3 linked regions of the Homo sapiens genome follow. The protein of the gene in region 1 interacts with the protein of each later gene in a pairwise test. Each region holds a gene or a part of one and is shown on either strand. Other genes may lie near its edges.

Evidence for each region.
Region 2: the proteins of NSG1 (region 1) and ATP6AP2 interact in binary tests that used the Homo sapiens proteins (3 or more experiments, as listed by UniProt).
Region 3: the proteins of NSG1 (region 1) and C16orf92 interact in binary tests that used the Homo sapiens proteins (3 or more experiments, as listed by UniProt).

The regions. Positions count from the first base shown.
Region 1 is NC_000004.12:4,404,097-4,411,127, reverse strand, and holds part of NSG1 (neuronal vesicle trafficking-associated protein 1), read right to left. Parts: intron 1,556-7,031; coding exon 1,445-1,555; intron 1-1,444.
Region 2 is NC_000023.11:40,583,949-40,590,979, reverse strand, and holds part of ATP6AP2 (renin receptor precursor), read right to left. Parts: intron 1,995-7,031; coding exon 1,864-1,994; intron 1-1,863. UniProt on the Homo sapiens protein: Multifunctional protein which functions as a renin, prorenin cellular receptor and is involved in the assembly of the lysosomal proton-transporting V-type ATPase (V-ATPase) and the acidification of the endo-lysosomal system.
Region 3 is NC_000016.10:30,018,901-30,025,214, reverse strand, and holds C16orf92 (fertilization-influencing membrane protein isoform 1 precursor), read right to left. Parts: upstream 2,018-6,314; 5' UTR 1,875-2,017; coding exon 1,811-1,874; intron 1,569-1,810; coding exon of another isoform or gene 1,489-1,568; coding exon 1,330-1,488; intron 1,220-1,329; exon of another isoform or gene 1,217-1,219; coding exon 1,129-1,216; intron 1,010-1,128; coding exon 988-1,009; 3' UTR 511-987; downstream 1-510. Other genes in the region: TLCD3B (ceramide synthase), read left to right, coding at 1-32. UniProt on the Homo sapiens protein: May play a role in sperm-oocyte fusion during fertilization.

The sequences.
Region 1 (7,031 bases):
TCTCAGCACTTTGGGAGGCCGAGGTGGGTGGATCACCTGAGGTCAGGAGTTCGAGACCGGCCTAGCCAACATGGTGAAACCCTGTCTCTACTAAAAATACAAAAATTAGCCGGGTGGTGGCGCACACCTATAATCCCAGCTACTCAGGAGACTGAGGCAGAAGAATCGCTTGAACCCGGGAGGCAGATGTTGCAGTGAGTCAAGAACGCACCATTGCGCTCCAGCCTGGGCAACAGAGTGAGACTCCATCACACACACACAAAAAGTTTATGAAGTAAAAAGGTTACAGTGAGCTCAGGTTAATTTATTACTGAAGAAAGAGTATGTTATGAATGGAGTGTAGCCCACATGTCCAGCGCTCACTCGTCTACAGGAGTGCACAGCCATGCCTCGGCCTTCGCATTCACTCACCACCCACTCCCTCACTCACCCACCCAGACCAGCTTCCGGTCCTGCAAGCTGCATTCATGATGGAAATGCCCTATTCAGGTGGACCATGCGTTATAACGTGTTTTTACTGGACCTCTTCTATGTTTAGATACACAAATACTTACCATCGTGTGACAACTGCCTACATTGTTCAGTATAGCAACATGCTGTCCAGGTTTGTGGCCTAGGAGCAGTCGGCCATACCCTCCAGCCCGGGTGTGTAGCAGGCTGGGCCGCGTGGGTGTACAGGACACTCTGTGAGGCTGGCACAATGATGGAGTCGCCTAACAACGCGTTTCTCAGGACGTATTCCCGTCACTAAGTGATGCGTGGCCAGGCCTCCCCTGGCTCCGTCTTCTCTTTCCACCCTTATCTCCCCTCCCTTTAATCCCGTTGCCTTGCATGTCACTTGTGGGCTTTTGGGAATGAGCATTATATATGCAAAGCGAGCATTTCCATGCCTGTAGAGAGCCCAGCACCAGTGTGGCTCCTGCGGTGGGACAGGCAGGAGAGGGACACAGGTCAGGAGGGTGGGTGTGCCCCCCAGCCCTGCTCCCCTTTCCCTGCGTGGCCTTGGGCAAGGCCTTCCTCTCTGTGGGACTTGGCTTCCCCCAGTACATCCTCTCCTCTTTCATGTGGCGGACATGGTCCCGTCTCTCTCCCTCCCTCCCCCAGAGCAATCCGCTGGGATCCGGTAGGTATCATCCTGGGCATTTCCCACGGCAGACCCTGGCTGGGCCCACTTTCGAGGAGGGCCCTTCCCCGGACTGCTGAGGTCAGCTCCCAGGGGCCAAGTCCGGGAGTTTCCTTCCTGTGGGTCTCATGTGCCCCCTGCCTACCTGCCCTGCTCTCCAGGTGGGCCTTCCACAGGGACACTCCTGACACTGGCCCCCTGCTGCTCTAAGGCCTGTCCGTGGGCCAGCTGGGGGAGACGGCAGGAGCAGCCTTGAGTTCAAGGGAGAGAACATGGGGTGCAAAGGCGTCCCAGGGCCTCTGGGGGAAAACGGAGTTTTACCTTGAGGACGAACCCATCGGGGCAGGCGCGGTCATACTTGTACACCTTGTAGACAACCAGGAAGACGACGCAGGTGAGGAAGGCCAGGGCGAAGAGGACCAACACGGAGACCTGTGGGCAGAGGTGGGACTGTCAGGGGTGGCCGGAAGGCAGCAGGACAGACACACACACACCCGCACACGAAGGCCCCCCCCCACACAGCATGTGCAGAGACTATCTCTGGAAGAACCTGGTAAGGGCAGCTAGGCACAAGAGGTTAGAAGCATCACTGTTCACTGGGCAATTTTTTGGTAACATTTTAATTTTTCACCATATTCATAAGTGACATTCATTTTAAATTAGTTATTTTTAGTACCCAAGGTCCTGCATAGAGAGCTCAGGGTACAGATATGAAGAAGCCCCACTGTTGCCCAGGCAGCTCTCGGGCCACTAAGACACATGTGTGAGAAGTGGGGTTGGGCTGCCCACTGCCCCATCACGGCGGTGGTGCATCAGCTACCAGCCAAGCATCCGCTCAGCAAATGTGTCCTGAGCCCTGGGCTCAGTGCTGGGACGCAGTGTCGCATGGACACCAGCCTGCTTTTGCGTGGGACCAGGAAAGACAGAACCTCTGCAGCCCCATTGGCCTTCGCCCTCGGCGGTTTCCCATGTGGTTAATTAAGTGTCCTCAGGGACAGGGATTCGGTTTTCTTCACCATGGTATGCTGAGCACTAGACAGCCCCAGCACACAGTAGGTGTTCAGCTGGTGTTTACAGATGAACTCACGACAGCTGCAAGACAGCTGGCTTGGAGGGGGACAGCCTGCCCCGGCTGGAGGGCACGGGGCATGGGTCACTAGATGACACTGGACCTGGACCTTGAAGGCACTCACCCGGCTGCCAGGGAGCCTGGCAGGGACGAGAGTATGTCTCAAAGCCAAAACGGGCTGGGCGTGGTGACTCACACCTGTAATCCCAGCACTTTGGGATGCCGAGGTGGGTGGATCACCTGAGGTCAGGAATTCGACACCAGCTTGGCCAACAGGGCGAAACCCCATCTCTACTAAAAATAAAAATTAGCCGGGCATGTTGGTGCGCACCTGTAATCCCAGCTACTCAGGAAAGCTGAGGCAGGAGAATCGCTTGAACCCAGGAGGCAGAGGCTGCAGTGAGCTGAGATAGTGCCACTGAACTCCAGCCTGGGTGACAGAGCGAGACTCTACCTCAAAATAAATCAATCAATAAAAAGCTAAAACAGCGTGCAGATGGCCCTCCGCCTGCCCAGAGAGGCAGAGAGAGCGATGGGGCTCCCTGGCCGGGTGGGAGGATGCCAGGTGCCAGCACGTGGCAGGGCCTCCGTAATCGTATGAACATGCACAGAGCTGCTCGCTCCCCACCGCCCCTCCCAGCAGCCTGGAGGATGCGAGGGGCTGGGACTCTCCCCTGGCCACATACAGACCCTACAGCCAACAAGGTTAAAGAACTGGGGAGCTCTGCTGCTTCCTAAGGCTGCAGTCCCGAAGCTCAACTGGGTAGACCCTCCAGCAGAGTGCCCTCCTGAGCCCTGCCCGCTTCAGGAACTCTAGGCTTGGAGTCCCCTAACACCATGCAGTCCCCAGTTCCCATCTGTGATAGGAGACCAAGGGCGTCCCAGGCACTGGTCCTGGGGAAGCAGGAGATGTACGTGAGAAAGTGTCCTATCAGCCGTGCAGCATGGTCACCTGGGAGACGGGCGGCCACCCTGCCGTGAATGCTGAGGCTAACCCTCCTTCTCTTTGGGGGCCCCTATGCACCCCCTGCAAGCCGCTCAGGCCCCAGCACCAGGGCCCAGGGTGCAGATTCTGCCTGCAGCTCTGCACCTTCGCAGCTTACCAGCCTCACCACCTTGGAAGCCCCTTAACCTCTCTGAGCCACAGACTCCTTCCCTATGACATGGGACGACACCTCCACCACGTCCCCGTCTCTGCAAGGCTGCAGATGCCTGGAGAGCCACACTAGTCACTGCAGCTCATCCCCTGCCTCCACTTCCCGGAGGTCTTCATCTCCAGGCCTCACAATTGTCCCCGAGCCTGCATCCTGACTGCAGGGAGCCCTGGCCACAGGACCAGCTGAATGGGGTGGCTCAGAGCTGAGGGACGTGGCCTCTCTGCAGTCAGATTCCTGTCCATTGTGCTGCCAGATTCATTGGTCCCAGGGGCTCTCAGCACAGTGCCCGGGGCAGGACAAGGGCAGCACCAAGACCCTGAGACCCCAGCCCAGGCTGCTCTCGCACTCCGCCTGGCTACCTGCTACATCCCACCGCCCGCCCTCCCATCTCCCCAGCTCAGACCCACTACAACTCCAATGAGACCTGTCCCCTCTGTGTCCCTTCACCTAGGGAGGGACCCCTCAGGCCCCTGGCAGGCAGATTCACATCCCCTCTGAGCAGGCCCATCCTCCTGGTCCCCAGGTCCTGCCAGTTCCTCAGTCACGTCTCCCGCCTCCACTCCCCCAACCCCGACCGTAGGTTGCCTTCTCAGGGCCATCACCCTCTCTAAGGGCCAGAGAAACTCCAGTCCACTGGGATGGCCTACAGTGCATATGGAGCCTGTGCCTGACAAGGGACACAGACAGGATGGAGCCAGGCTGCTCCCCAGGGCCGCAGTGCCCACAGGGAAAGGCGCCGTTTAGTCCAGATCACAGCTGCAGTGCACAGGCCAGCGCACAGCACCTGGGCCAGGGCAGCAGAGCGCAGAGCTGTGATGAAGCAGGCAGAGCTGGCCGGAGAAAGAAGGCGCAGCCGTCTGAGGCACGTGGCAGCCAGAGGCAGTGGCAGGAGCCCAGCCAGGGAGGGCTGCCTGGCGATGATAGCCGCAAGCCCTGATGGTGCCTGGGGTTGGGACAGGCTCTGGACAGGGGCCGGAGCACAGACCCTGCGGCTCTAGCTCACTGGCCGGGAGTCTGGCACCTGGCTCCAGCCTGTGAATAGCAGTGAAAGGAACGCCTTCCAGGGACAGTCACGGGACACTGAGAACAGCACCTGGGTTGGGGGGGAGCATGACGGAGCTGTCTGCTGTCGCTGCTGTTATCCTCACTCTCATCTCCTCACTGGCCCTGGGGTGTGCGCCTGGCAGACAGCAGAGCGGGCTCTCAACCCTCTAACCAGCTGCCCCGTCGCATGTTCACCCGGGGCCAGCCTGCCCGGGCTCCAGCTACCTGCCTTTCTCCAAGTCTACACTGCAGGGCTGCCTCACTCAGGGTGGTCCAGAAGGACTTGGTTCCATTTAACTGGCCTCCTTCGTAACCCTTTGCATTTTATTCTGTGCATCTGAAAACACTATTCTGAGAAGAGAGCCAAGCCACCACAGGTGCAGATGTCCTGTTAGAAGAGGGTTTCAGGGGCAGACGTGGTGGCTCACGCCTGTAATCCCAACACTTTGGGAGGCAGAGGCGGGTGGATCATGAGGTCAGGAGTTCAAGACCAGCCTGGCCAGCATGGTGAGACCCCGTCTCTACTAAAAATATAAAAAATTAGCCGGGCGTGGTGGTGAGTGCCTGTAATCCCAGCTACTCAGGAGGCTGAGGCAGGAGAATCGCTTGAACCCAGGAGGTGGAGGTTGCAGTGAGCCAAGATCGCGCCACTGCACTCCAGCCTGGGCAACAGAGTGAGACTCCGTCTCAAAAAAAGAAGAGGGTTTCAAGTCCTTGAAGAGATGGGGCATCATTAAACCTGTTTCTCCAGTTGGGAAGCCACATCAGTTTGGCTCCTGGTACCCCACCTGTCTAGATTTAAAAAGAACCCCCATTCTCTCCTGCAGGGCTGTGGGGGAACCACCTCCTCGGGGGTGTCCTCCGAAACCTGGCCAAGCCTTTCCTCCAGGATCCCAGGCCCAACGGCTGAGGAGCCAGCCGAACCGTGCAACGAGAATGCGAGAGTCCCTGGAACAGTCAAGGGGAGAAGGGCAAAGAAATACATCCAGGGAGAGTCAGCGGGCGGCCCGTGGTGTGGCAAAGAGCTCCCCTACAGGCTGAGCTCTCTCTTCCCCCTGCCCTGTGCAGACTCTGGAGCTGGGGTCTCCTCAGCCACTGCAGGGCACAGCATGGGGTCCATGGCCTAAGGAGAGAGAGGGCCACGGGCCTCTCCAGAAACTGGCTCGGAATTGAATCCTGTAAGCTGCTGCCTGTGTGATCTTGAACAGGTCACCTGGCCTCTCTGGGCCCCACATCTCATCGCCAAAGTGGGGGAACCATGCCTTACACCCTGACGCATCTCAGGAGAAGGACAAGAGACCACAAGTTGAGAGCACGCTGGGCCCCTCAAAAAGAGATGCTGAAGTCCAGCCCCCAGGATCTGTGAAGGGGACCTGATTTGAAAATAGGATCTTTGCAAATGAGCCCATCAGGGTGGGCCCTAATCCAACCAAACTGGTGTGTCCTTATAAAGAGGGGAAATTTGGATGTAGACAGACACGCATATAGGGAGAGGGCCGCGTGAGGACGGAAGATTACAGCACTGTGTCTACACAGCAAAGCCAAGGATGGTGGCAACCTCCAGGAACTAGGAGGGGCAAGGACAGAGTCTCCCCTGCAGGTTTCCAAGGGAGCACAGTTCTGCCGAAGCCTTGATTTCAGACTTCTGGCCTCCAGTAGTGGGGGAGTAAATTTCTGTTGCTCTGAGTCCCCCCAGTTTGTGGTACTTTGTTATAGGGCCCCTAACAGCAGAGTGACTTCACAGGGGTCAGGACTGGCTCCCCTCCCCCATACTTGTTCTCTCTGCCATTACCCCGTTCCTTCCGCACCATGCCAGGCTGCCCTGCCCTCTCTCCTTGCCCTTCAAAGCCCTGGCCAGGCCCCCTGCCCCAGGAAGGCTCTGGAACATCCCAGCCTCTATCGGGACACCAATCGTGAATGCAGGCACCAAGGAGCCCAGCATCTCTTTTTTCCTAATTAAAGTGAAATAAAAGTGTCACAGTTTGGAGACTTTCCTAAGTCCCTGCCCCCTCCCCATGAGATACTTAGAAGAATTCTGGAACATTGGATGATGTTACTGAGCCAGACATCGGCGTTTCCTCCAGGACCTTGCAGTATCTTTTAAGCTTCCTCTACAACAACATGCCATGATCGGAAGCATCTTGGAGAACCACGACCACCAGCAACTCCATCGTTCAACCAATTTGAAAATACTTGATGGACGAACTAGCCATTCATGCCAGGGACTAAAAGTGAGATAAGCCCGGGTTCCTGGCCTGCTCGGCCACACGCAGTGACCCTGCAAAGGGCATTCGCCCCAACGCCTGGTTTCCTGTGAAAGGGGGATGCCGGCCCAGCACCTGCGTCTATGATGGGGTGTGCAGGAGACCCCATGGCTGGCAAACAGTGGGCACGGTGAGCTGGGTGAGCCATTGTTACCCTATGGGAGCCCCACTCCCACACAATGTTGCAGGCTCCATGCTGGGCAGAAGCTGGAGACCGTCCAATTCAACGCCTTTCTTTACACATAACAAACGCCTTGTCATTGAAAAGGCAGCACCTCCAAGTCGGCCAACAGGACCCAGGTGATCCTAAGAGGCCGGTGTTGGCTATGCAAAAAGAGAGGTGGCGGCCATTCGCAGTGACTCCAGCCTGGGTA
Region 2 (7,031 bases), on another chromosome or scaffold:
GGAAAAAAGCAAGCAAGTAAACAAAACATAGGTACCTTTCAAATTTCAGATCACAAAATATTTTCTTCATGTAGCCATGGAAATTTTCTTCCCCCACATCATTTTTTGCCCTCATATACAGCATCACTTTTATCTTTCACAGAGACATAGCAAGATGGTCATTAAAACATCCTCTTTAGACTAAGATCTTTATAAATAAAACAATTCCTACTAAAAGTAACTATCATTAGTTTACTAATAATTATTTCTCAGTTATTTTAATAGCCATCAGTAGTCAAGTTTAAGGTTGTAAAGAACTAGATGGTCAGGTGTGGTGTTCACGCCTGTCATCTCAGCACTTTGGGAGGCTGAAGCAGGTAGATTCCTTGTGTCCAGGAGTTCAAGACCAGCCTGAGCAACATGGCAAAATCCTGTCTCTACAAAAAATATAAAAATGATCTGGGCATGGTGTTGTACGCCTGTGGTCCCAGCTACCGGGGAGGCTGAGGTGGGAGAATCTCTTGAACCTGGGAGGTGGAGGTTGCAGTAAGCCGAGATCAGGCCACTGCACTCTAGCTTGGGTGATAGAGCGGGACCCTGTAGCAAAAAACAAAACAAAACAAAACAAAAAAAGAATTAGGTACAGGCTGGGTGTGGTGGCTCGTGCCTGTAATCCCAGCACTTTGGGAGGCTGACGCAGAAAGGATTGCTTGAGGCCAGGAGTTAAAGACCTACCAGCCTGGACAACATAGCGAGACCCTGTCTCTACAAAAAATTAAAAAATCAGCTAGGCGTGATGGCATGCATCTGTAGTCCTAGCTACTCAGAAGGCTGAGGCAGGAGGCTGAGGCAGGAAGATCACTTGGGCCCTGGAGTTTGAGGCTGCAGTGAGTCATGCAGACTCAAACTCAGCTTGGGTGACACAGCCAGACCCTGTCTCTAAAAAAATAACTAGGTACAAATTTCATCCTTAAATGTAAACAACCAATCCTGTTCACTTTGGTTGCCCAAAGACTACAAAAAGCTCAGGGGCTCTGCCCTTAGGCCTGGCAGTGAAGCAGTTCCCAGGTAGAGTTTCTGTTTTCAAGGGTGCTCAGGATTTGGAGAAAAGTTCCTTTCAGTGACTGATGATATATATCTAGAGACCACATCAAAAGCACCAGACTTACAAAGAGAAGGAGATGATAGCACCGAGCAAGCTGTATTTCCTTTCTTCTGAGCCCTTACCTTTCGATCTCTCACATTGACTGGATCTAGACCCTCCCGCCCCCTACAATCACATAAGCAGCCAATTACTACAACAGGTCATAGCTCCATTCTAGGAAACCAAGGTCCTTGGCTGCCCCATGGCTACTGACCACATTATTTTCCTAACCTCAGGCATAATGCATATATATTTTATCATTCATAGTGAATCTATCGCCTATACTAAAAAAAAAAAACCAGAAAGTAGATATCCTATTAAGAGTAGGACAGATGCATTCTCTAATATACAAAGAATTTCACTACTATGAATAAATAATTATATAGTTAATGATTTCTAATGATTTGTTTCAGAAGCCAAGCTTGAAGCACTCATCCAAAATCTTCCCAACTACAAATGGGTTTTTAAAAAATTAATTCATTTATTTTTGAGATGGGAGTCTCACTATGTTGCCCAGGTTGGTCTCAAATTCCTGGGTTCAACTGAGCCTCCCACCTCGGCCTCCCAGAGTGCCGGGATTACAGGCGTGAGCCACTGTGCCTGGTCCAGATGAGCTTTTTAACTTTTGTAATCTGTACCAAACGTACCTACGTTCGTTTGATGCTTTTTTGGGCTATTAGCAGAAATCAGTAAAAATGTTCTTAAAAGCAGCTCCAAACATTTAAAAAATATATACATACTTCTTTCACAGAGAAGCCCATGGACAATGCAGCCACGTCTGGGATCCGCTCTCCTGGTATAGGCCAATTTCCATTTCGGAAAACAACAGACCCTGGTGATTTTAATATACTAAACTCGTTCCCCAAAACACCTGAAAAGAAAACAGATCAGTAAATGAATTATCAACATCATAAATCATTTACCTTGACAATTATTAAATATAATACATGTTTCCCCATTCACCACTGACTTAGCGTATTAAATTATGACTGGTCAAAATGCTGAGTCCTAAACAATAACAAATTCTTTTTCAAAGTATCACTCTAAGAATTTAAGTCCACACATTCTGCTGGAACAAAAGTACAACTATCAGAGCCTCTCTGAACCTATTCTGGTTCAGGGTCTGCCTGATAAGAACAAGAAACAAACAAAAGTCTCAAAAAGAGATCAACAAAGGTACAACTACAAAACAGGGTTTCCTAATGATATAGACACCTTCCTACTGATGGCTCTTAAAGAGGCATGTGGCAATTTGGCAGGAATTAGAAATCAGTGGCATATCTCCAAAATTTAAAAAACAAAAAACAAAGCCCAGGCACAGACTAAAAAGGAAGAAGCTTGAAATCTCTAAATTATTTCTACCATCAATCCTTTCTACACAATGCAAATTCATAAAGTTCCTATTATTTCACTATAAGATTTTACCAGGTTACTATGTCTTAGGATAGGTAACATCTTTCCTTATGTCCCATAGGCAACCCTAGTGAAATAAGGACTGTCAAATGTTGGGGGGGGGGGGGGGCATACATGTCACAAGTAGAAACATAAAAACACTTCAGACTTTAGAAACAAAGTCCAGGAAACAGTATTTGTAGTTGACATGTCAAGAGGGTAAGAAAAGGTATTCTGTAATGATAAAGTCAACTAGTCTAAGGATTCAGGATTAAAAGATAAAGATGAGAATAAAGGGACTATTTTATAAGCTCTCCACAGCTAAGGATGAGGTATTTGGCCTCTTCATCCATTATCTATTAACCTCGTGATGTCTAGCTTACACAGGGACAAGTAGCTAATTTCAGTTACTGAAAGGAACTTTTCTCCAAATCCTGAGCACCCTTGAAAACAGAAACTCTGCCTGGGAACTGCTTCACTGCCAGGCCTAAGGGCAGAGCCCCTGAGCTTTTTGTAGTCTTTGGGCAACCAAAGTGAACACGATTGGTTGTTTACATTTAAGGATGAAATTTGTACCTAGTTATTTTTTTAGAGACAGGGTCTGGCTATGTCACCCAAGCTGAGTTTGAGTCTGCATGACTCACTGCAGCCTCAAACTCCAGGGCCCAAGTGATCTTCCTGCCTCAGCCTCCTGCCTCAGCCTTCTGAGTAGCTAGGACTACAGATGCATGCCATCATGCCTGGCTGATTTTTTAATTTGGGGTTCCTATTAAAAAAATGGGCTCCAAGTCTAGAACAAATGTTAGCCACACCTAGTATGGGAAAATTAGACTTTAGTAAAGAATCAGTGTTATTCTCTTGACCTAAGGAAAGTACCACTAACAGGGGATGGAAATAAAGTTGGAAGCAACAGTAAATGTTTTGGTGTTGCAGTATTGACAGTAAATAAAAGGCTTCAGGTTGGTGCTGATACACGGGAGTTACAAATTTCAATCCGGCACAGCTGTCAGAACAGGAATGTCCAAACTGCTCTAGCTGAAGACAGACCAAAAAAATTAGCAGAATGGAATGGTCTTTTGTAACTGATAGATATCTTGGTTCACTAAAGTAGTAGTACTGCAAACACTAAGAAAAATGGGGAACCAAGAGACCTATGCTTCCCAAGAACCATACACATATTTTGTTTGTTTGTTTTGAGACAGAGTCTCACACTGTCGCCTAGGCTGGAGTGCAGTGGCACAATATTGGCTCACTGCAACCTCTGCCTGCCAGGTTCAAGCAATTCTCCTGCCTCAGCCTCCCAAGTAGCTGGGATTACAGGTGTGTGCCACCATGCCTGGCTAAATTTTGTATTTTCAGTAGAGACAGGGTGACACCATGTTAGCCAAGCTGGTCTCAAACTCCTGACCTCAAGTGATCGGCCCGCCTCAGCCTCCCTATGTGCTGGGATTACAGGCGTGAGCCACCGCGCCCAGCCCCAGGTACCATACACATTTAAAAAACCATATTTTGATTTGGAGATACCCTTGTTTTGAGACACGGCCCTACTCATTCAATTCTGGCAAACCTATACCAAATAACTTTGCCCCAGCTTCGTAGTTTCAACTTCCATGCCTGTACAACAGTCCTTCAGAAGCCCAGAGCTTTAGAAAACCTTAGAGTCAGGGACTCCTATACAGAGGAAGGTCATTTGTCCAAACTTCTGCTTATTATAAGTATAAGCATGTCTCAGGGATACCTGGCAGAAAGTCACCCCTCCTCTATTTCAATACTACCAGTGATGGGGACACCACCTCAATATACGAACTACATTTGCCAGCAACTGGCTCCATTTTCCTAACATTCTAGTCCTTTGAAAAGTTTTTCCTTGTACTGAACTGAAATGGGCTTCCTAACTTTCAACTTCCTATGCTATCACTCCCCAACTCAGTCTCACCAGATAACCTCATCTCCAGCTTCACAGAGAAAACAGAGGAATTTCTTGAGCTACCTGCTTCCTCTCCCCACCACAAATTTATCTGCATAAGCCCCTATCTGTAACTCCTCTCCCTCCAGACATGAGGGCAGGGATGTCCCTCCTCCAGACTAAGACAATCCTGTGTTCAGTCTTTTTAGGGACCTTTGTTCCTTCACTGTTTGTTAAGGAAGCCACTCTTCTAGGACAGACAACACATCAGGAGTGAGGTGGCTATATGGTAATAGCCATCAAAAGATGGCCCTATAGAATACAAGCTCCATGAAGGCGGGGATTTCAGTGCGTCTTGTTCACACACTATCCCCAGGGCTGAGAACAGAGCCCGACACATTGGTGCTCAATAAGTACTTGTTGAGTTAATGAATGAATGAAGTCACACTTCAAACCACCAGTTTTTTCCCTCTCCACTGGCCCTTTCACTTCAGCATAAAAATACGCTCAAGGCACTCCCATTCTATAACTAAAACCATAAAAAACCTCCTTTGGTCCTACCAGTCTCCACCAGCTACCAGCCTTGCTCCCCTTCAGAGGAAGAATCCAGGAAGAGCAGTCAACCACCGTTTGCTTCTATACTTCATTTTAAGTTTACTACTTAACCCACAAAATTTTAAAAATTTTTTTTATTTTTATTTTTTGAGACAGGGTCTTGCTGTCACCCAGGTTGGAGTGCAGTGGTAAGGATCTCAGCTCACCGCAACCTCCACCTCCCAGGTTCAAGAGATTCTCCTGCCTCAGACTCCTGAGTGGCTGGGACTACAGGCACGCACCACCACGTCTGGCTAACTTGTGTATTTTTTTGGTAGAGACAGGGTTTCACTACGTTGGCCAGACTGGTCTCGAACTCCTGACCTCAAACAATCCGCCTGCCTCGGCCTCCCAAAGTGCTGGGATTACAGGCGTGAGCCACCCCACCTGGCCGCCCACACCTTCCAAGCCCACCATGCCACTGAAACGACTCCCCAAACTCAAAAGGCAATTTCCATCCCTTAATTTTATCTAACTTCCCAAAGCATTTGATACTGGCAACTCCCTCCTTGAAAAGCCCCTGCTTTGGTCTTCATGCAGCCACGGCTCCTGGTTTTCCTTGCAATCCCTTTGGCTGCTTCTCCTCTGTTTCTTTCCCTTCCTGTCCTTTAAAGCAGTGGTAGCCAAACTTTTTAGATTTCAACCCTGTCAGCCCAAAATTGGAAAGTAGCCCTTCTTTCTTCTCTCTGTCCCTCTCATCCTCTCCATGTAAAGTATATACTTCTACTATAGTAATAGATTATGTATTTGATTTGTGCTATATTACAAAGCATACAAAAATAAAAGTTTTTAAAAGGATGAGATACCTGTGTAGTATTTTTCCCAATCTAATAATGAGAAAACATCAGATAAACCCAAATTGAGGGACAGTCTACAAAATACCTGACCATTATTATTCAAAAAGAGATAAGATAAAAATAGGCCAGGCATGATGGCTCACACCTGTAATCCCAGCACTTTGGGAGGCCAAGACAGGCGGATCACTTGAGGCCAAGAGTTCAAGACCAGCCTGGCCATAATGGCGAAACCTCATCTCTACTAAAAATACAAAAATGAGGCCAGGTGTGGTGGCTCATGCCTGTAATCCCAGCACTTTCAGAGGCTGAGGCAGGCAGATCATTTGAGGTCAGGAGTTTGAGACCAGTCTGGTGAACATAGTGAAACCCCGTCTCTACCAAAAAAATACACAAGTTAGACAGATGTGGTGGTGCATGCCTGTAGTCCCAGCTACTCAAGAGGCAGAGCACCTGAGGTTGGGAGTTCAAGACCAGCCTGACCAACATGGAGAAACCCCGTCTCCACTAAAAAAATACAAAATTAGCCAGGCATGGTGGTGCATGCCTGTAATCCTAGCTACTCGGGAGACTGAGGCAGGAGAATCACTTGAACCCGGAAGGTGGAGCTTGCAGTGAGCCAAGATCATGCCATTGCATTCCAGCCTGGGCAACAAGAGTAGTCCCAGCTACTTGGGAGGCTGAGGGACAAGAATCACTTGAACCCCAGAGGCGGAGGTTGTAGTGAGCCGAGATCGTGCCACTGCACTTCAGCCTGGGTGACAGAGCAAGACTCTGTCTCAAAAAAGGAAAAAAAAAAAAAAAAAGATAGAGGCTGGGTGCGATGGCTCACACCTGCGTGTAATCCCAGCACTTTGGGAGGCTGAGGAGGAGGATCACTTGAGCCCAAGAGTTTGAGACCTCATCTCTACAAAAACAAACAAAAAATTAGCTGGGTATGGTGGCATGCGCCTGTGGTCCCAGCTACTAGGGAGGCTGAGGTGGGAGAATCGCTTGAGCCTGGGTGGTCGAGGCTGCAGTGAGCTGTGATCACACCAGTGCACTCCAGCCTGGGTGACGGAGTGAGACCCTGTCTCAAAAACAAAAACAAAAAGGATATAAATGGAATTTCTAGTACATTCATCTGGCATCCAAATGGATCACCTAGCATACTCCACTTTGGAGATCTGAGGGCTCCATTCTTGACTCTTACTGCTTTCCTATTCTACATCTCTCCCAGGCT
Region 3 (6,314 bases), on another chromosome or scaffold:
GGCCGCCCCCGGCCTGCCAGGCCCAGGACTGAGGCCGGGGGCCGGGACCCTCCCCCTCCCCACCCCCACCCCCGTGGAGACAGGGCTCTGGGGCTGATGGCTGGGGTTGGGAGCCAGGGTCCTCTTGCCCGGACAACCCCAGGACTGACGATGACCCCGAAAGGGAAGAGGCCCCATCTCTCGGGGACTGAGGGGGTGGAGAGAGGGGACCTCTTCCCCCTACTCTGCCCCCTTCCTGCACACCCTTGCGCTGGAGGAGGGGAGGGGGCACCGCCTCCCACCCACTGAGGGCAGGAGGGCTTGTGGGGAGGGACACCAACAGGGTTTCAAGGGGACCAGGAGTCAGAATGTGGGGAGACGCCTCTGCCAAGGCCATCCCAGCCCCTATGCTGCCATCCCCCAGGGCTCCCCATCACCCGAGAGGAGAGGACGCCCCAACTAACCCCCGCTGGCCCTCGGGCCTCCCGAGTGGCCGGCTGCAACCACGGCTCCTCTCCAGGGTAGGCCAGCTTGAGGAATCTTATTTATTTTATTTATTTACCCAAATTTGAACTAGTCTGTTGGGTTGGGGGAAGGAGGTGGCTGCTACCCCCAAGCCTTCCCAGTGCTGACAACCCCGGGGGCAGGCGAGGGCGCCCAGTCCCTCACCATCGGCTGCACATCGCGCCCTCGGGCCCTGCCATGTCCCTGGTGCTACTGACCTCTCAAGGCTTCCTCCAATCTGGGGTCGGGGGACCCTGGGAGGTGCTTTACAGACCGCTAATAAAAGACGATCTGCGTGAACGCCACCAAGGCCCTTGCCACCAAGTTCTTTGGGGCTGGGAAGGGAGGAGGTGGGGGGCTTGGGCCATGGGAAACAGAGGGGACAGGATCCCCAGCTGCTCGCTGGGCAGTCAGGGAGGAGGAAAGCAGGGAACTTTTGCTCATCAACAGGAGAGGAGGTGGGTGTGGGTGCTCAGGTTGAGTCCAGAGCCCTTGTCCGGCTCTTTAGGCCCCTTTCTGGAAGTTTCTGTGGGGCATGGAGATCAGAGGGGAGAGGTCACAGCCTGCCCCGCTAGAACTGGGGTCTTCAGCCGCTCCCAAGGAAGGTGGTGGTGGGTGGGGTTGGAGAAAGGGGGCAGGCCTTACATGTGGGTGCAGAACTGGAAAAGGAGAAAGAAGAACGCCACCACCAGCAAGCCCACCAGGATGTGATGGAAGAGCCCGGGGCTGGAACCTGCTAGACAAACAGGACCCTTAACTCCCCTCTGATGGCCCAATGAAGGGTCTGGGGCTGCTCTCCTCCAGACCCTGGCGGGGAGGGAGGTCCCTTCTCAAGCTGGTTCATACCTGAGTTAATGAACACGATGGGTTTCTCTCCAATAAACTGGGCCACAGCCAGCAGCCTGGCTTGGTCTGAGTCCGGATAATCGAAGAAGTCAGGTCTGTCTAAGAAGCGCGGAGACTCTGTCCCCAGGGCTGACGCCGTGGCACGCTTGGGTCTGGGTGCTAGGACCCAAGCAAACTCTGTGACAACAGCCAAGCTGACCCCTGCCTTTATCTCTCGAGGCGGAAGCTGACTTGGGACCCTGTGAGACCACCCAGCCTTATTGCAGAGGCTGTGGAGGGTCTTGATTTCCCTCAGGGTCAGCTGGGTGCACCACGACAAGGCTCGCGGTTGTTGGGGGGTAGGTGGGACCAGCAGGATGGGAGAGAAGAGTGGAGAGAAAATGAGAGGGTGCAGGGTTGGCTTCCGAGTCCCTAAGTGGGCATCACACTTTATGCTCCCAGAGCTGCCTGCCTTCCTGCTGCTCCCAAGACAGCTTCTTACCAGTTTCTATGGCCCCTAGTGCAGCCAGCCACACCCACACCAGCACCCATGGCCACAGCCTCATGACTCCTATCATGAGGTGGGGGCTCTGTGATGTCACAGCCCAGAGCTGTTCTGATGGCACTTTGGGGTGAGGGGAGAAAGTGCTAGGAGCTGGGACCCCTCCCCCATCCCTCACTCTCATCAGAAGAGGAGAGGAGAAGAGAGGTTGGGACCAGTCTTCACCCCCTGGAATGTCGCTGATGATAAAACCATAATGGTGGCAGCCCCAGCATTTACAAAGAGGAGGGATGCGGCACGGCCATCTTGCTGAAAGCCCGAACTAAAGGAAGCTGTGTTTGGACAACAGGCACAATTTGGGGTGGTGGCACAGGGCCACACACCTCCGGTTACCCCTTGGATCAACCACAGGTAACATTTGTTTTATTTATTTTCATTTTTTTGGAGACAGGGTCTCTGTCTGTCACCCAGGTGGGAATGCAGTGGCGCCATCTTGGCTCTCTACAGCCTCTGCCTCCTGGGTTCAAGTGATTCTCTTGCCTCAGCCTCCTGAGTATCTGGGATTACAGCTTTGGATAAATCCCTTCCTTTTATCTGTCTGCCACCACACCCGGCTAATTTTTGTATTTTTAGTAGAGACAGGGTTTCACTATGTTGGTCAGGCTGGTCTTGAACTCCTCACCTCAGGTGATCTGTTCGCCTCGGCCTCCCAAAGCGCCCGGCCTATTTTATGTATTTTCAGAGACAGGGTCTCACTCTGTCACCCAGGCTGGAGTACAGTGGTATGATTACTGCAGCCTTGAACTCCTGGCCTCAAGTGATCCTCCCACATCAGCCTCCTGAGTAGCTGGGACCACAGGCATGTGCCACCATGCCCGGCTAATTTTTGCATTTTTTGTAGAAATGAGGGCTTGCTATGTTGCCCAGGCTGGTTTCGAACTTCTGGCCTCAGGTGATCCTCCAGCTTCGGCCTCCCAAAGTGCTGGGATTACAGGCATGAGCCACCATGCCCAGCAGGTAGCATTTATTGAACACCTATTACTATGCTGGCTGGACCCCATTTATGGCCAAGTACCTTGCACAAATTTGTTCATTTGCTCTTGCACTGACCCTCAGAGGCAGGTACTCTTTTTTTTTTTTTTTTTTTTTTTTTTTTTTGAGATGGAGTTTCACTCTGTCCGCCAGGCTGGAGTGCAGACGCACAATCTCAGCTCACTGCAACCTCCACCTCCTGGGTTCAAGCGATTCTCCTGCCTCAGCCTCCTGGAGTGGGATTACAGGCGCGCACCATCACTGTTCGGCTGATTTTTGTACTTTTAGTAGAGATGGGGTTTCACCATGTTGGCCAGGCTGGTCTTGAACTCCTGAACTCGGATGATCCGCCTGCCTCGGCCTCCCAAAGTGTTGGGATTACAGGCGTGAGCCACCAAGCCCAGCCCAGAGGCAGGTACTCTTGCCTCCCTTATACACGGGAGGAAATCACGGCACAGAGGGGAAAAGTAGTGTGGGCAATGCACACTTCCTGGGGGGGGGGTTCCTCTCTGAGGCTCCCCCTTGCATCCTATCCGCAGATCCAGGGGCACAGGGCTCTCTCCGTCCTCCCCCGCCCCCTCCTTAGTGCTCAGCCGGGAACGACCCTGGGGTTAGGAACCGAGAGGAGTAGCAGGCGTCTCCCACTAGGTGGCAGCAGCGGCCGCGCCTGAGTCCACGCTCCCACCCTAGGAAAGGCGCAGCGGGGCGGACTCCCGGGCCTCCTCCCGCCTCTTCCACAGGTTGCATCCGCGGCTGCAGGAAAACGGATGGCTGGGAATGGCCGTCGGGGGTTGGTCAGAGGAAGTCCCTCGGCCCTTTCCGAGGCACATCTCTTGGCCATCCACGCGTCCTTCGCAGACTCCGCTCCCTGCACCTCCGTTTCCTCTTCTGTGGCCGGCGGCTCCCCCGTGGCCACCCCATCTCCCATCTCTGCCACCTCCCAACAGCCATTTCCACTCCTGCGGCCCCATCCCAGCTAAGGAGAGCGCCCTTCTGATTGGCAGGTGGGCCTGTCTGTCACGGGCATGTTCCATCCCACCCAAGCCCAAGGACACTCCAGGGTTTCCTTAGTTTCACAACGAAGGTGCGTGCTCAGCGGACTCTGCAGACCCAGTGCCGCGACTTCCCCTAAAGCCAGGCGTGTATCTGCGCGTGTGAGGTGCTCTGCCGCAACCCTATGCAGAGAGCAGGTGGGCTAGGACTCGGGGTACTTGCCATGAACCGCTTCGAGTTCCTAAACAAGTAAAAAGCCCAGAGAGAGAAAAAAAGGGGGCAGCGGGGCGGGGGTGGGGAAGGAGGGAAACGAATATCTATGGGACTGGCTCACGTGGGCTGCTTCCCCTGTGCTGCGCTGATGGCTTCCCTTTTTTTGAGACAGGATATTGCTCTATCTGTCACCCAGGCTGGAGTGCAGCCTCGACCTCCTGGGCTCAAGCGATCCTCTCACCTCAGCCTCCCAAGTAGCTGGGACCACAGGCGTGCACCACCACACCTGCCTATTTTTTGTTTTGTTTTGTTTTGTTTTTTAGATGGAGTCTCTGTCTGTTGCCCAGGCTGGAGTGCAGTGGCACGATCTTGGCTCACTGCAACCTCTGCCTCCTTGGTTCAAGCGATTCTCCTGCCTCAGCCTCCCGAGTAGCCAGGATCAAAAGCATATGCCACCATGCCTGGCTAATTTTTGTAGTTTTTTAAAGTAGAGACGGAATTTCATCATGTTGGCCAGTCTGGTCTCAAACTCCTGACCTCAAGTGATCTGCCCTCCGCGGCCTCCTAAAGTGCTGGGATTACAGGCGTGTGCGACTGCGCCCAGCCTACTTCTTTTTTTCTTTGCAGAGATGGAGTCTTGCTATGTTGCCCAGGCTGGTCTCAAACTCCTGGGCATAAGTGATTCTCCCACCCTGGCCTCCCAAAATGCTGGGATGACAGGTGTGAGCCGCCATGCAGATCACTTCTAAGAAAAAGGAAGGGATTTATCCAAAGCCACAAGGCATGTGAGAGGCAGCAGAAGGGACTCAGTAATGTGGTTTTTGGGCCAGGCGCGGTGCTCACACCTATGATCCCAGCACTTTGGGAGGCCAAGATGGGTGGATCACTTGAGGCCAGGAGTTCGAGACCAGCCTGCCCAACATGATGAAATCTCCTCTCTACTAAAAATCCAAAAAAAGGCTGGGCGCGGTGGCTCACACCTATAATCCCAGCACTTTGGGAGGCCGAGGCAAGTGGATCACCTGAGGTCAGGAGTTCAAGACCAGCCTGACCAATATGGTGAAACCACGTCTCTACTAAAAATACAAAAATAAGCCGGGTGCGGTAGCATGCGCCTGTAGCCCCAGCTACTCGGGAGGCTGAGACAGGAGAACTGCTTGAACACAAGAGGCAGAGGTTGCGGTGAGCCTAAATTGCGCCACTGCACTCCAGCCTGGGTGACAGGGTGAAATTTCATCTCAAAAAGAAAAAGAAAAAAAAAAAGATTAACTAGGCATGGTGGTACGTGCCTATAGTCCCAGCTACTCAGGAATCTGAGGCAGGAGAATCACTTGAGCCCGGTAGGTGGAGGTTGCAGTGAGCCAAGATCGCACCACTGCACTCCAGCCTGGGTGACACTCGAGACTCTGTCTCAATAAATAAATAACCTGGTTCCCGACGCTGGGCCAGGGCTCGTGCCCCAGGCCCACAGGCAACTGCTCCTTGAGGTTAGCTGGGAGAAGGGACACAGAACCTATGGCCTTTGGGGTTGACTTTCTTTTGTTTCCTCAAATGCTTCAAAAACATTAAGCTATCTCTACTAGTAAAGGCCATTTTGACCCAAACAATGCATTATCCATTCACCCATTTATTCATCCATGACATAAACGTGCTGAGCTCCTGCTACGCACTGGCTGGACTCCATTTATGACTCAGAAATCACCACGGCACGGTCCCTGACCTCAAGAATGACAAGGGAGAGAACTCATAGATGCGCATCATTCTAGAGTAGACGGGCAACTCTGGGTCATCTACACCTGCTGTCTCCACTCCCTCATCTTTAATGGACTCTTCAATCTCTTCTTTTTCTGAGATGGAGTCTCATTCAGTCACCCAGGCTGGAGTGCAGTGGCGCGATCTCGGCTCACCGCAACCTCTGCCTCCCGGGTTCAAACGATTCTCCCACTTCGGCCTCCTGAGTAACTGGGATTACAGGCACCCACCACCACACCCAGCTAATTTTTTAATTTTTAGTAGAGATGGGGTTTCACCACGTTGGCCAAGCTGGTCTCAAACTCCTGACCTCAGGTGATCTGCCTGCCTCTGCCTCCCAAAGTGCTGGGATTACAGGCATGAGTCACCTCGCCCAGCCAATTCTTCAACCTCTTCTAATCTGGCTTAGTCCCCACCAATCCACTGAAGCTGCTTTGATCAAGTCCACAAAAGAGCTCATAATCTGCCAAATCAAATGGTTCTCTCTCTTTCCATTCCGTCTGCCTCCCAGCAG